Linked DNA regions of Homo sapiens. The protein of the gene in region 4 purifies or fractionates together with the protein of the main gene of each other region. This does not show direct contact. Each region holds a gene or a part of one and is shown on either strand. Other genes may lie near its edges.

The links. The genes of interacting proteins can lie anywhere in the genome.
Region 1: the proteins of BBX (region 4) and SPAG1 purify together in Homo sapiens (affinity purification with mass spectrometry, with the first as the bait; one large-scale study listed by BioGRID). This does not show direct contact.
Region 2: the proteins of BBX (region 4) and SHPRH purify together in Homo sapiens (affinity purification with mass spectrometry, with the first as the bait; one large-scale study listed by BioGRID). This does not show direct contact.
Region 3: the proteins of BBX (region 4) and GREM2 purify together in Homo sapiens (co-immunoprecipitation; one large-scale study listed by IntAct). This does not show direct contact.

What each region holds. Positions count from the first base shown.
Region 1 is NC_000008.11:100,238,587-100,242,404, forward strand, and holds the end of SPAG1 (sperm-associated antigen 1), read left to right. Parts: intron 1-653; coding exon 654-818; intron 819-1,816; coding exon 1,817-2,185; intron 2,186-2,304; coding exon 2,305-2,436; 3' UTR 2,437-3,318; downstream 3,319-3,818. UniProt on the Homo sapiens protein: May play a role in the cytoplasmic assembly of the ciliary dynein arms. May play a role in fertilization. Binds GTP and has GTPase activity.
Region 2 is NC_000006.12:145,922,859-145,926,358, forward strand, and holds part of SHPRH (E3 ubiquitin-protein ligase SHPRH), read right to left. Parts: intron 3,439-3,500; coding exon 3,346-3,438; intron 1,989-3,345; coding exon 1,881-1,988; intron 928-1,880; coding exon 785-927; intron 1-784. UniProt on the Homo sapiens protein: E3 ubiquitin-protein ligase involved in DNA repair.
Region 3 is NC_000001.11:240,609,356-240,613,513, forward strand, and holds the start of GREM2 (gremlin-2 precursor), read right to left. Parts: upstream 2,801-4,158; 5' UTR 2,529-2,800; intron 1-2,528. UniProt on the Homo sapiens protein: Cytokine that inhibits the activity of BMP2 and BMP4 in a dose-dependent manner, and thereby modulates signaling by BMP family members. Contributes to the regulation of embryonic morphogenesis via BMP family members.
Region 4 is NC_000003.12:107,770,962-107,774,461, reverse strand, and holds part of BBX (HMG box transcription factor BBX), read right to left. Parts: intron 1,835-3,500; coding exon 826-1,834; intron 1-825. UniProt on the Homo sapiens protein: Transcription factor that is necessary for cell cycle progression from G1 to S phase.

The DNA.
Region 1 (3,818 bases), on a different chromosome or scaffold from region 4:
TGGTCATGTCTTGTTAGGTGCCCTTTCTTTCCCTCAACTTCTTCAGTGTATTGTGTGACTCATGGAAGATTAAATGTTGACTCTAGCCAATTCGAAGAGTAAACAACCTGGAAGGATTTTATGGAACAAAAGTATTATAATAACTACCATTTGCATAGTCCTTTATAGGTTTAAGCCACTTATTATTTGTTCATTTATTTCTTGGTACAGCCTTGTGAAAATTTGAATAGAGCTTTTGTTCCCCTTATGTTAAAGATGAGAAGACTGAAGCCCAGAAAGGTTAAGTAGGATCTTAAGTTTCATTGCTAGTAGGTGCTAATACAAGGATGAGTTCATTCTTTCATTTATTCATTCAGCAAGCAACAAGTGCTTATCATGTGTTAGGGACTGGGAAGGTTGTGGTGATACAGAATTTAACTTGCGTTTTCTAACTCCAGATCCTGTGCTTTTTCTTCTATAGTCGATGTTCACTGTATCATGGGTTATACTATTTCAGCTGCATATTCACCCCACAGGCTCACTTTGTAAGAGTGGTATTAATGTGGACCCTGCACACATACTGCACAGCTCACTACATCCACCCCACTCCCACTCAGGTTACTCTAGGCTCCTTCTATTTATGAAAGTTATTTTCTCTGTCTTCCTACTTACAGAATTATCAGAAAAGCTTAATTGATCTCAATAAAGTTATCCTACTAGATCCAAGTATTATTGAGGCAAAGATGGAACTGGAAGAGGTAACTAGACTCCTTAATCTTAAGGATAAGACAGCACCATTCAACAAAGAAAAGGAGAGAAGGAAAATTGAGATTCAAGAGGTATTTGTATTTGATTATCTTTGAAAGTACTCCTTTGGGGACCTTAGACTGGATTCTAAGGTCATATTCCTGTGAGTTCTAAAACATTTTTAATTTTGTGTTTTTATTCTGATGATCAGTGACAAAATTTTAACCAGCAACAAAATGTCTCCTTTGCAATGATAATTAGCCATTGTATTTCCCAACGTGGGTCCATGGATGGTACTGGGAGTCTCTGCATTACTGCAGTTCTTCCTTTCTTTGGCCTCCATCTGTACTGCTCCCACTCCAGAGTACACTGGGAACCAGCGGCCACTGACTTTGCTCCAGGGTAGACCTGGAGAATCCTGACGGGACTGATTTTGTTACAGGGGCCCTGAAAGCCTCACCTCATAGAGATTATCCAGATTGATTCAGACCTTTTTAGCACTCTGAAATATGACTGCCTCATCAGAGATCTCGAACTACCTCAGGATCAAACTGCTTTTGTGATTCAGATAACTAAAATGTTTTTCTCTGCCTAATATTAGGGAAGAATGTTAGGCTGTGAATCCCTGTACATTCATGAATGCTAATACCCCATTTATAGTCTCACATTTCCACTAAGAGTAAGAGGCTAATATGTAAGAGAAGCTAGGAAGGTTTTTTTTCCTCTTTAAGGAGGGAAGAAAAAACTGTTTTAGGAGAATCGAGCAATGTAAGTTCATTTCTCTGTTAAAATTTATTGTGAAAAGGAGATAAAATTGACATAGGCATTTATACAACAATTGTATAAAGTCTAAAAATTAAATTTTGTTGTCATAGTTTCAATGTCAAATAATTTTTTAAAACTTTTATGAATTGGATCTTACACCCTAAAACTTCTCTTCCTAAAAAAAATTATTACAAAGTTTTCACTTGGAACTGGACTACAGTACAGTCTACTTGTAGTTTTCAATTCTCATTCTGACAGACGTACTTAGGATGTATGTGGTGATTGTGGTTCAGTGTCACAATGCATTTTTCTTTTCTTCATGAAGGTGAATGAAGGCAAGGAGGAGCCTGGAAGACCTGCAGGGGAGGTCTCCATGGGATGCCTTGCTTCTGAGAAGGGAGGCAAAAGCAGCAGGTCACCAGAAGACCCTGAGAAACTTCCGATAGCCAAGCCTAATAATGCCTATGAATTTGGTCAGATTATAAATGCTCTCAGTACCAGGAAGGATAAAGAAGCCTGTGCACATCTTTTAGCCATCACTGCACCAAAAGATTTGCCGATGTTTTTAAGTAACAAACTTGAAGGGGATACATTCCTTCTCCTCATTCAGTCTCTGAAAAATAATCTTATTGAAAAAGATCCCTCATTGGTGTATCAGCATCTTTTATACCTGAGTAAAGCAGAAAGGTTTAAGGTAAGTGGCTAAGTATTTTATTAGTAGAAATTGGTTTTATTAGGGTTTCTGTAACTTAAAAATGTTACTTATGCTAACATAGTTGGTTTTTTGTTTTTTTTTTTTTTTGCTTCTTTTAGATGATGTTGACACTAATTAGCAAGGGCCAAAAGGAGCTAATTGAACAGCTGTTTGAGGACCTTTCGGACACACCAAACAACCATTTTACTTTAGAAGATATACAGGCCCTAAAAAGGCAGTATGAGCTTTAAATCAAGATAATTGTTAGATTTCTTCCATGCATGTATGTGTTCCAGGAATGTTAATGAGATGGTATTGTAAAAGAGTTGCATGGATAAAACTTGGCCTAGAAAAGTTTGGTCTGCACTATAAAACATTTTACTTATTTTCCTACATAGAACATGTATATTCTACAATCTGCTTTTTATTAGTTGTAAATATTTTCTTATGTACCAGAACCAAATAAGTATATTTAGAACTTGTTAAAAATACATTTTAATTTATGATATACATATTATTTTAATTACTTGTTAAAATTTTGAGTTAAGTTGCATTTCTTTGGGCTATGAAGGAGTCCTCTTAAGTTTGATAGAAATGAATTTCTTGTAACATTCTTTTTTAAAAGTGGAAGTCATTAACAGTGATTATTATATCACTTATATCCTGCTAAGATACACATAAATCCCATTTTGTACTAGTACCTGTGGATTACAGTCAGTTAAAATGAAATGCAACACTGAAGTCTATAACATGAAATGATTATTAAATTGTTTATTAATTTAGAGCTATAAGAGGAACTTATTTTTTCTAATACGGAAGCATTGCCTAATAATTAAGAACAAAAATTGCCAAAAATTTCTACCACTTTTTACTAGATTTTAAAAAGCTACTTTCTTTTATATTGCCTATATAAGCAAAAAACCAACCACTGTATTAAAGCAAACTAAGCCTGCATTTATATCTGAATTATTACCTCCATATTTTACCAAACATTTGAATGTCCCCCTTCCCCCTTTTTTGTTTTCTGCTTTTATGACTGTATTTATTCCTTTACTGTAAAAGAATATGAAGAACTCATACATGTTGAAAGCTCCTTTGTTGACTGGGTCAAAGTGAAGGAATTTCAATCTCCATCAGTGTACTGTCATTTATTTCTGCGGTCTGTAGTGCGTTCCCCCTTTCTGGAGCATTTTCTTATTCACTTAGAAGTGAAGATGAAAGTTAGTATCATGTTTACTATTTCCATATTCATTATTATTTTATCTAATCTTTTATAGTTACAGAATATTTTAACTCATCTTGGGTAAATATCTTTCAAACTGTGCCATTTTTCTTTGAAACTGCTTTCTTTGTTCATAAGTGAAAAATCTGTAATGGGACTTTAGTCTTCAAACAAAATTTCTCCTTTTTAATGTTATTGAATTTTTATAAAAGTAAATGGTGGATTGTTAGAAATGTATCCTATGTATGGAGTTTACTTACAGAAATGGGACCACTCTTTTCCTATACATAGCAACTTGAAATTAACTTTAGAGACAAAAGGGAACTTTCTCTTTTGGTGCCTGACACAGTGACATTAATAACTGTAGGTGATTTTGTTGAGCTTTGTGATAGGCACTGTGTGTCATTTATC
Region 2 (3,500 bases), on a different chromosome or scaffold from region 4:
ACACAATACAAAGAAAAGAATAATAGGTCAATTTCCTCAAATTCAGAGAATGGTTGCCAAACAAAGTGTTAAAGAAACTGTTTGCTGTTTTTTTTTTTTTTAACAGCAACATTTGAGTGAGTTTTCCTTCAGAATGTATTCAAAGTATAATATTGGGCTGTCTACCGTAAAAGATACCAAAAAAATTTGATAGTCCTGTGCTCAGGAACTGAAAAAGAGCATGAAAAATGTATGTCTGTCTCAGATATCTTTGAAAGTGTACGACTGCCACATTCTTCCGTTTTAAGCCTGACTACAGATAGCCTTCCTGACATCCTTGCTCTATATGAGGAGGTGCCTGCAGGATGAAACATAAAAGCAGAATATTGGGAAGAAAGAAGAAAAATGGCTAAGAGTTATATTCCTTGGTTGAATATATATATATATGTATATATACTTAATTAAATCTGTAATTATGCACTATATACGAGGCACTTTGCCAAGCACTTTTCCTGTATAATTTCAATAGTTACTAATGTGCTCACATTATGAAGTGTAAAATATTAAAGTAACTAAAGTAACAAAGGTAGGTCGCAGTTAGGAGTTAAACCCAATTATAGTACCTATAACCATTTTGATAAACTGTGAATAAAAAAGGCTGCAAAAAAGAAGTATGAATGTGTCTGTATAGGTTTATGAATGGAGAAAAAAAGCCGGTAATAATGAGAAATTAGAAACTAGAAAATACAAGGATTTCTTTGCTTTTAAAATTATGAGTAGATACTTTTTCTTCCTGTTTTCTTACTTCTCTGACATAGAAAGCTTGCCAGTTTGTTGCTTGTAGTTGCTGGTTATTTCATTTCGCACTCGCTGAACTAGCTCCTCATCAATAGTAAATTCTATTGCTCTGTGGATCACATTTAGCCACCAAGGAGAATTAGAATGAATCTGTAAAAAAGGTAGCAGTTAATCAATTAATACATTTTTTTTAGTACTCACTAAGCTTCCATCACTGGGCAGGGTGATGCCAAAATTCAAAGAAAGTAATAAATGCTATTCTCAAAGGGACTATCACAGAGGGGAGACGAGTATACATATTCCATGTACAATGCTCGCTTCCTCTTTTGAAAATATAATTAAAGAGAAACCCCTATTTCCTAACTACTCTGGATAAATGGGAATTTATTGAATGCATTTATATAACAAAGCTGTAACTAAAAAAACTGTTTACGCCAAATGAAAATTCAATACTCAATCTATATGTGTGAAAAGGTCACAGGTCTCTTTATCAGCATAAGAAAGAAAGCCTTCATTCTAATCTTTAACTAACTGAACCAGATTCTACTTAATGAATAATCCACAATAACTCACAAAATTATATCCCAGAATACTAAATAATGAATGAATTAGAAAGACAAAAATTTGCAACACCTGATTTAAAAACTGAAAATAAAAGTGTATTTGTGTAACCTCTTTAGATTTTGCTGCTGATTTCATAAAACTGAAATTTTAGAAATGACAAGTGGTATATATTCTGCAGGAAAAATACCTGTGGTTCTAATGTATTAACATTTTAAAACATCTCAGAAACAAGATAAAAAGGAGGTTATAGAAGTCTTTACTTTCTTCAAAAGACAACTGTTATATACTCATGGTAAGAGAAAACCCATGAGTTCAAAAGAAAGAGAACTCAAAATAGTTGACTTATTTATGCATCTGTTCACTCAACCAATAAATCATTGCTAACAGTAAAATAAACTTGTATTGTGGGTCAGGCAATGTGCTAGGTGCTAAGGATTTCAAAATGTATAAGAAATTCAAGTTTCTCCCCACCAAAAAACCAAAACTCAAAATGATATCTGGAGGCAAATACAAGTAAGAAACACTGCATTTTGGCATACCTTTCTTTGAAGCTCATGGATGGTCTGCTGCACAGGATATAAAGCTTGCTGGGCTTCAGCAACTTCTGTATTACACTTGCTCATGTAGTGCTCTCGCAGCTGTTTGGCCTGTGTTGAAACAGAGAATATAAACTTTCACTCCCAATCTAGAATATAATTCAGTATGATGTTTCAAGAAGAATGGGTCATTTTATACATTTAAAGCTACTTAACTGCATTTAAACATAAAAGTCCAAGTATACTGTAGAGAACATAAAAGTCACGCTAAAAATTCCTTATATATGGAAGTTAACAAAATTTACTTGTCCAAGTAACAAAATTTCAGAAACACCGAATATTTGTTTGCCAATTTCTTATTTAATTTTTTTTTTTAGTTAGAATAAGCAAAGAGGGGAAAAAAAGAACAGTAATATTTCAAATGATAGGCAAAGCAAAGACACCTTTCTAAAATTTGGCTAATTTAGTTATTAAAATTCCTTAGTTACTGCAGTTTAAAAATAATCCTTGAGAATACACAGTAACACAGGTGTTAGGAACTGAATTTTGTTTCCCCAAAATTCATATGCTGAAGCCCTAAGAAAGTAGATTTTAAATGTTCTCACTACACACACACACACACACACACACACACATGCATGCAATAAAAATAAAGAGGTAATTGATTTAGTTTGATTTAGCTATTCTAGTGTCTACATACATCAAAACATCAGTCTCTACTCATGAATAGATAAAATTTTTGTTAATTAAAATAGTTTACCAGGGCACCTCCGCCCCCAAAACAACCAGTGCAAAAAGGCTGTGCTTATTTATATAATCTCATTTTTTATCCTGTTGACTCAAATAAAGCCTCCACTTACAGGTTCAATACATTTCAAACATACCTACTCTTTTGATTTTAGCTCTTTAATGTTTAACAACAGCAAAAATCCCTGGAAGAATCTGCATAATAAGCTATTAACAATTTATAGTAAAATAATTTATAATATCACTCTTTTCGATGTCATTCTTTTCAAAAAGAGGCGACACTTTTTGTAGAGGAAACTTCTTTGGGAGAACTACCACCAAAAATTTGACTTTATTTACCCCCTTAAAAAATACACAGAAATGTGGAGAAAGTGCAAAAGTTTGTATATTTACTAAGCTACCTCTTTTGTAGATCTGCCATGAGATCAAAGTTTCTTTTTTAAAACTCATTTATTTACATCCCATTCTGTTGGCTACCAACAGCCATATCTACAACAAGCATTTATCACATAACTGCAGGTAGATCAGCAGAGAAGCCAAATAATACGTACTGCTGCCATTCTCTGCTACCCAAAATCACAACAAAATTCGAAACATCAAAGTAACAGGAAAACATGATTACATTTATTTGTATGTTGTATGTCCTAGGATATATCAACTATATGGAGCATAAAGTTTGAAGAAAATATACTTTTATAGACAGAATGAAAAAAATAATTACCTCTTCCTCAAGTCGGCCATCACGCAAGGTAGGTGGTATCCCTGGGTGCCTGGCTATCAACAATTCCATCAAGTTATGGGTAGCATGAAGTCTCTACAAACATATCAAAGGCAGTAATTATGACAGTCAATGCAGAAGACTCTGAAGAGAACCTA
Region 3 (4,158 bases), on a different chromosome or scaffold from region 4:
TCAGTGTTGAGTCTGAGGACCACATTTTAGCCTGACATGTGATCAAAATTAATTCTAGACATTATTAGGCCTATTATACCTAATATTATTAGAAACAAAAGAACTATCAAGAAGCAGCTAATCCAAGAAGAAGATGGCACCATAGGTCTAATTTTTAATTGAACACCTTGTCCTTCAAAACAATGTCTTGTGTGACCCATTTAAGCCGAGTGCTGGGCACGTTTTCCCTGGTTGAAATAATTCTTTTTTGTCCGTAGATATTTGAAGGACCCTGATACTGAGAACATGCCTGCAACCTGGCACGTTGCACAGGGGCAATTGCTGTAGCAACACTGAAGTACAAAAGTGGCTGAACTAATCTGTTGAGTGCCTGTGCCTCTGCAGTCTCTCAGTGTCTGCCCTTGACCCAGACAGGCCAATCCTCTCCATATCAATAAGAACTGAGAGTCTAATACCATTCCTTTGCATTAGAAAAAGAGATGTTTACTTTAAAGAGATTTAAAGGCATGTACCTTGTTTAAACTTTACCAAACTTATAACTCGAGGGTATGTAAAGCTCTGGCTGGCTCTACTAAGATTCATAGAGAATGAACTGTTGATTACCTCTCTCGGTGAAGAATGATAGCAAAAAACAATGAATAATCACAGCATTGTTTATATTTATCTTTGAAAAGCCATCAGTGTCTCCTAGTCTATACAAAGTGAATATAATCCGTCTCACACTCACAAAGTTGCTACCAACACACCCAACATTGCTTTAGAGTTAGAAAGATAAGACAGAAATAGGTCCCAACTTATTGCAGCTATTTTATTTATAAAAGATTGACAAATGCTCACAATCATACAAAACAACTCTTTACCAATAGAATGTAGTTGGGTCGATTAACTTATATTTATTTGCACAGATCAGTTCTTTACAGTTTCTTTCTGATGTAAAAGGAAAAAAAATTTATCTATAAAGTTAAAATGCCTTCTCCCAAATATAATATTCACTTGCCATGTCTATACTTTGACACGATTTCAAAAAGCACCCAGTTAAATCATTCAGATCAGTCGATGGGCAAAAACTATGAAGTTTTCCTGACTCTATGGTAGAGCTAAGCATGCATTTCCTTTAATGACAGAAAGAACATGTTCATCTGATAAGAAACAAAAAACAAACAAACAAAAAAAGGTCGATATAAATTCTCCACTGTGATATACAACACAAATACCTTTCTTATAACTTTCTTATCTTCCTTGGTCGGGCACATGTCTTGGGACAAAGGCTACCTTGAAAGCTAAGCACGGCTGAATGGTGAGTCGATTGCGAATTATCAGTGAATGGTTTGGATATGATCGACTAAGACTCCACTGGGAAGAGTGCTGTTTAGACGAAAGGTAAGGTATTTGATTGCCCCTGCACCTGCTGCAGAGCCATTCTCTGGCTGTACTGGAGTCCCAATCTGTTCCACTGCAGAAAAAGCGCTTTTCATAGGGATTCAGAGCCACATGAATACCAGCCAGCCCTTGAAGACTGCAAAGCAAGACCAATTTTTTAACTGACTTCTTGCAGTCCCCTCTGGCTTTTCCCAGGAAAGACTGAACTCATTAAGCAATGCTAATTTAATCACAAGTCATCAAGGGGTGGGGAGTTATATAACTATCTTTAAAATTTCAAATCAAACATGATAAAATCTCAGGAAATAGATTTTTTTAACAAAACCCACACCTCAAAATAAAAAAAAAAAAGAAATAGAAGTTTATGAGTTTTAGGATCAAATAAAATAAAATCAAACATCAATATTTTCTTACAACTATCACATCTACTAGATAGTTCCAATTCATGACTTTTTAATGTAGTAATATGTGAGATCCTGGAACTGAACGTGCCTGGCGTGCAGAATACAAATGCATTTTTAAACTCGTAAGACAATGTAGAAATAAGTCAGGTACACAGGAAGGATCACTGACAATCACGTTAAAAAATAACTACCTCCCTTCTCTCTTCTCCTTCAACCACAGCGTAGTGATAATAGTGATATTTCCCTCATGAGGCGGGTGCACCTTGGCCATATGCTTTAAAAAATCAAAACTCTGCCGAAGTCCGCTGTGGTTCCTATTCCTGTAGGGAGGATATTAACCTGGTAGGTAGGTGGGAGAGGTTCGTAGCCCGCTTTCTAACAATTGGATGGTGTTTGCCTCGCTATAGTCATGATTAGAATGGCGGTCACCAAGAGGTATTTATTGGTGGGATGACAACATATTGGTATTGACGTTATTTAAAAGAGAAAGAAAGAGCGATCACGGTCAAGTTTGAAGGTCCTTATGTTACACCCACGCATAATTCAATAGGTGAATAAACCTTGTGGCCCCCAGACACACGCCAACAGCTTGAATTACCCGGGGTGAAACCGGCGAGACGTCCACTCAGGGCTTTCGGTCCTGACCAGCCACGGAACAAACAACGTCAATTCATTCTAAGTGCCTGGTGAAGGTAGAAATCAGAAACCGTGTCTGTGTCACGTTAGTCGTGACAAGCTGCGTACCTGCAATGACGTGATGGAAGCCTCCTCCTCGGGTCCCTTCTCTCTCTCTCTCTCCCTCTCCCTCTGCCTTCTCTGAGTTCTCTAGTCCACAGCGGGGTCTAAGTTTGGTCTCCCGCCGCCGCTTTCAGTTCGACCGCAGCCAGACTGCAGCAGACGCCCATAAGAGAAGCGCGCCGGCTGAGGGTGCAGGAGAGGCGAGAGCGCGCCCCGCGCCGCGCGGTCCCAGGCTGGCTGCTCCTGCAGATGTGAAAGGAGCCCGGAGACTTAGCTCTGAATCCTCTCGGCGCTGCATGGGGATATTATCAGAGTCTGGGATTTCTATTGGCTCTGAACACCAAACAAATCACACCAGCCACCCCCCTTCTCTGTTTCACTCAGCGCTTGTTTCTCATCTAACCCACAAACATTGCAGCCACACCACACACTTCAGTCGCTTGCAATGTTTCTCTTTTCCTCCTTCCAGTCAGTGGATTTACAACCCTGTGGTCAGCTCTAACATTTTTTTTAGCAGACTTCCAATTCTAACCTTCTTGTTTATGTAGAGAAATTCTCCCTCCATCCCCTAAACCAGAAAAAAACAAAAAACAAAAAAAAAACACTCATTCCCTTCAGATCTTCTTCCTTTTGCTGATGGGTTTCCAATGTGAAGAATGTAGAAAGCCTGTGTGTGATATGTCTGACATTCTCATACACGTGCGCTTACACACACACACACACACACACACACACACACACCAGGCTCCTTTTGTTTGCAGTAACTGAGGCCAGTGAAATAAAAAGCAAGCTGAGCCTAATAACCTAAGTGAGAGCTTAACTAATAAAATCTTGAATGAATTCAGTGCAAAACACCCATTGCTTGAATTTGTTTTCTGTTCCAAATAGTACTTTGGTCATTATTATCCTGATTTTTGTTTATTGAATGCAGAGGTTTCTAATGCAAATCAGACTCTTCAACATCCAGAGAACATAAAACAATGACGCCAGACCAATTCTTGTGCTCCATCGGCTTGGTGCGTTATACCAGAAGCGTATTGTGACGCCTAAGTGCTTGCTCTTTTCATTATTTTTTGAACTTCTCACCACTGATCATCTCAGGACTGAGACTCCCTTAGTGTGATTCACCAGCCAAAGACGACTATTCAGACTCTGCTGATAGAGGTTCCTGGATGAAAATTTTTTATCTGTATGTGTCAATAGAGATAAACCTTTGGCCCCTTGGCAGGGAAAGGGCCCAAGAAAAATCTGAGATCTTACAAACTTGGCTGGGGAAATTCAGAATAAAATAAAGTTTCAGTGTGTCTTATAAAACAGACCCTCCCTTAGACTTTTCCCCAAAATCAATTTCACTGGTGCTTATGGAAATTTTAATGACAGTTATTCTTGACAAGAAGCCATTGCTTCTGAAATCTCTGAGCTCTGTTTTGATTTTTGACTTGAATTTTTTTTTTGCAGTGTTATCCCTTTTGTATGCTATTTGGTATTTGATATTCTAGTTCCAACTCAACTCACAGCACATTGGGTTGCAAATTCACAGGAAATAACAATTAGTTCTTGAAATATACTATCACCAAACAGACTACCTGCCTTCTTTCTTACGTGGGCACATTACAGGAATTGTGAAATGCAGCCT
Region 4 (3,500 bases):
TGCTGCTAGCTTTTCCATTCAAAAACCAGCCAAGGTATGGGAGTCCTTTGCTGGTGGGCACTATTCAGTCTAATTTCCCTAAAACTCACTGAACTGACATCCCTGGGGATGAAATAGGCCCAAGTATCTTCATTTGGGGCTTGTTAGACCTAGGACTCACACATGTCTTGTTGGAATATAGCTTGGCAAAAGGTAGTCCTCCAGGCAGATGCTATATTTTAAAATAGAGAATTTATATAAAACACTCAATGGAATAAAGGTAAACAGGTTAACTATTTTCTGGACATTATAATGTTTTAAAGAGCTCTTCGGTTCAAATGATGCACCCGCCTTGGCCTCCCAAAGCGCTGGGACTACAGGTGTAAGCCACTGTGCCTGGCCCACTTCAGTTACAGCTTTGATTACCTAATGAAGAGAGAAAGGCAGTTGCTTCTAGAGCCTACAGGTGAAGATTCTGACAAACATACGTGCTTGATTCTCGAAATTCCACCAGTTTTCAAAACCAAACCTAAAGCTCTGAATATTTAATAATAATCTTTCAAAACAAACAGCCAGCCCATACCAGTGGGGGGAAAGAAGAGATTAAAATTACTTTAATTACATCCTGAGAACTACCTACAAAATGAATACACTTCCCTTAATGGTGCTAGAAAACATGTAAGTAAAGTAACAAATAATTATGATCTATAAACCATAAAGAAATATACAAATGTAAGGTATTATTTTGATACCATATTGTTTTTTATGGCAGTTGTTTTCAATAGGTCTAAAGGTGAAATTCTGTTTGGTTTTTGAATTCTTTTCAGGTTTGTAGAAGTTACTTACCTCTGTCAACATTAGCTCGCAGAGAGGTGAGCATGCCCTCAGACACCAGGGTTTTATAAAGAGCACCTTTGCAAGACCTCTCGGATTTCCTGGAACCACAAGTTTCTATTTTTCTGTGACAGTCACTGTCCTCAGGCTTGGCCTGTCCTGATAGGCTGGGTGGTAGTGCATCTTCCATAGGGGTCAATGGTTCTGCTTTTATACCCTCTGGTGTCTCACCAGAAATGTTCTTGCTAGCAGAAATACTAATGAAATCTGGAGGTCTTGACTCTTTGGTGGTGTCTGAGGATTTCTCCTTTGACATTTTCTTCTCTCTTGATTTCACTTTTTTCTTTGGTGGCTTGGCATCCAAAATGCTTCCCTTGCCACTTGAGGATGTGCGGACCTTCTTGCGAGGGGTATCTCCAAGTTTCTCTATGCCCCAGTCTCCTTTTGCGACGGCTTCAATGGTATATATGACGCTCTCAATGTCAGATTCCGAAGACTGCCTCTTTTTGCAAGTCTTCTTGGGTGTGGATTTATCATTTCCATGTCGATCCATTTTGCTTTTCTTCTTTTTCTTTTTTAGCTTTTCTGGCTTGTTTAATGCTGCGGGATCCTCAATGATCATAATTCCATGAGGATGGCACATATGATCCTTTCTACTGGGAACATCACTAATTATTATCTTGCTACTGGCAGAATAAGAAAAATCAGGAAAATGACTACATTTGTGATCTTCTTCTAACTCTTCCTTTCTAATTTCTTTGGGATCTTCCATTTTTATAGCCATTATGTCATCTATTTGCAATGCCTCAAAATTTCTCAATTCCTTAGAATCTCTTAAATTTTCCTTAGCCGATTTTTCAAATTCTGCTTCCTTCTGTAACCTAGTTTCATCTGTTTTCTCCATTTTAATTTCTTTTTCTTCCTTTCCCTTCTCTAATTCTTTAATTCTTCCACCATCGGATTCTTTTGCTTTTATTAGCTTTGATTCTTCCATTTTCATCCCTTCTGATGCCAGGCACATCTAAACAATTAAAACAAAATGGGAGAGCACCCGAAAGTATCCTTATTATTCCACCTTCAAAATTAAAGTTTTCAATTATATCTGTTTTAAAAATAATCAAAACACACTTTAAACTTTACAACAATCAGCCCACTTCTGCCAAACTAACTGAAATGAATCAAATTGATAGAAGGCTGTGGGCACTGTTATACAGTCATTTAACTCGTCAAACGTATCTCTGAATTGTCATTTTCTAGCTTCAACAGAAGCTTTTCCTATGAAAACAAGACCTGGAAGAAGGAGGAAGGGATTCAGAGTTGAAAGACCCAAGTCTGATTCTTAGTTTTGCTACTTATTAACTTTGTGACCCAGAATGAATCACTTACCCCCTCACTCCTCTGTGGCTTCTGTAAAAGGAAAACGATCCTAGGACCTATCTCAGAGGATTCTGTGTGGTCTAAGTGAAACGATGTACTTAACTGTAGCACAGGCTGAATATCCCTTATCCGAAATGCTTGAAAACGAAAGTGTTTCAAATTTTGGATTTTTTTTTTTATTTTGGAATGTTTGCGTTATATACTTACTGGTTGAGAATTCTTAAACCAAAAATCAGAAATCCGAAATGCTCCAATGAGCATTTCCTTTGAGCTTCTTGTTGGTACACAAAAAGTTTTGGATTTGGCAGTATTTTGGAGTTTGGATTTTCAGATTAGGAATGCTCAACCTGTATTTAATCATCCTCAAACTCTGTTCAGATATCTGCCTTTTCTTTTTTTCCAGGGGAAATGAGGAAAGCAGAAATAATTTCTACCTGTCCACTTGAAATTAGAAATGATATAACCATTTGCTAAACAATTACAGAAGGTTTTGATTAATGAACAAAACATTATAGGTCCACAAATGCTGATAGACAACTCTAAAGTCATAAATGCTCTGAGAACAAACTTGTTTTTGTTTTCTTAACTCACTTGCTGGCAAATTGATCTGATGTGAACTCAGCTGGCTGCAAATTCTGACCTGAACCAACCTGAAACTTTATAGTCTTAAATAGTTTATTTCACTTACTGTGACCATTCATACTTTTTGTTATTGGAATAGTGGTGCATTCAAATATGCACTGGGGAAGTTACTTAGTGTAATATGTATCTACTGTATAATTTTCCTAAAATCTGAAAGATTCTGAACACCAAAACCCATCTGGCCCCAATTTGGTTAAGTTTTTATATTTCTCATCAAAACTCCCCAAATTTCACGTACAGAACATTCAAGGGGAAAGTTGCCATTTTCCTCTCTGGCTCCCAGATACCTTGAAACTTTAATATAGAGCTATTTTTTAAAATGGGAAATTTAAGCTTATTGTAAAACCTGTTTTCAGTGCCTGGGTTTTCATTTATACACACTTAACTGCAAGGCTCCCAAAATGCCAGCCCCCATGGAGGACACTAATGATACAAAAATCAATAAGGTCAGGTCTGTCTGCCTTTGAGGAACTTATAAAGAGATTGATGATGCCGATTTGGTCAAGGGCAGCAAGGAAGTCTTAGTCATAATTTATTTTATCTACTTTGTATTAGCAACTTAGAAGGGAAAGAGTATTGGGGGTTGCTGAGTCAATGCAAAATCAAGCACATGAGTAGGAAACTGATCTGTTTTTAAAAACCATCATTTTATTAAATGGCAAGTTGTC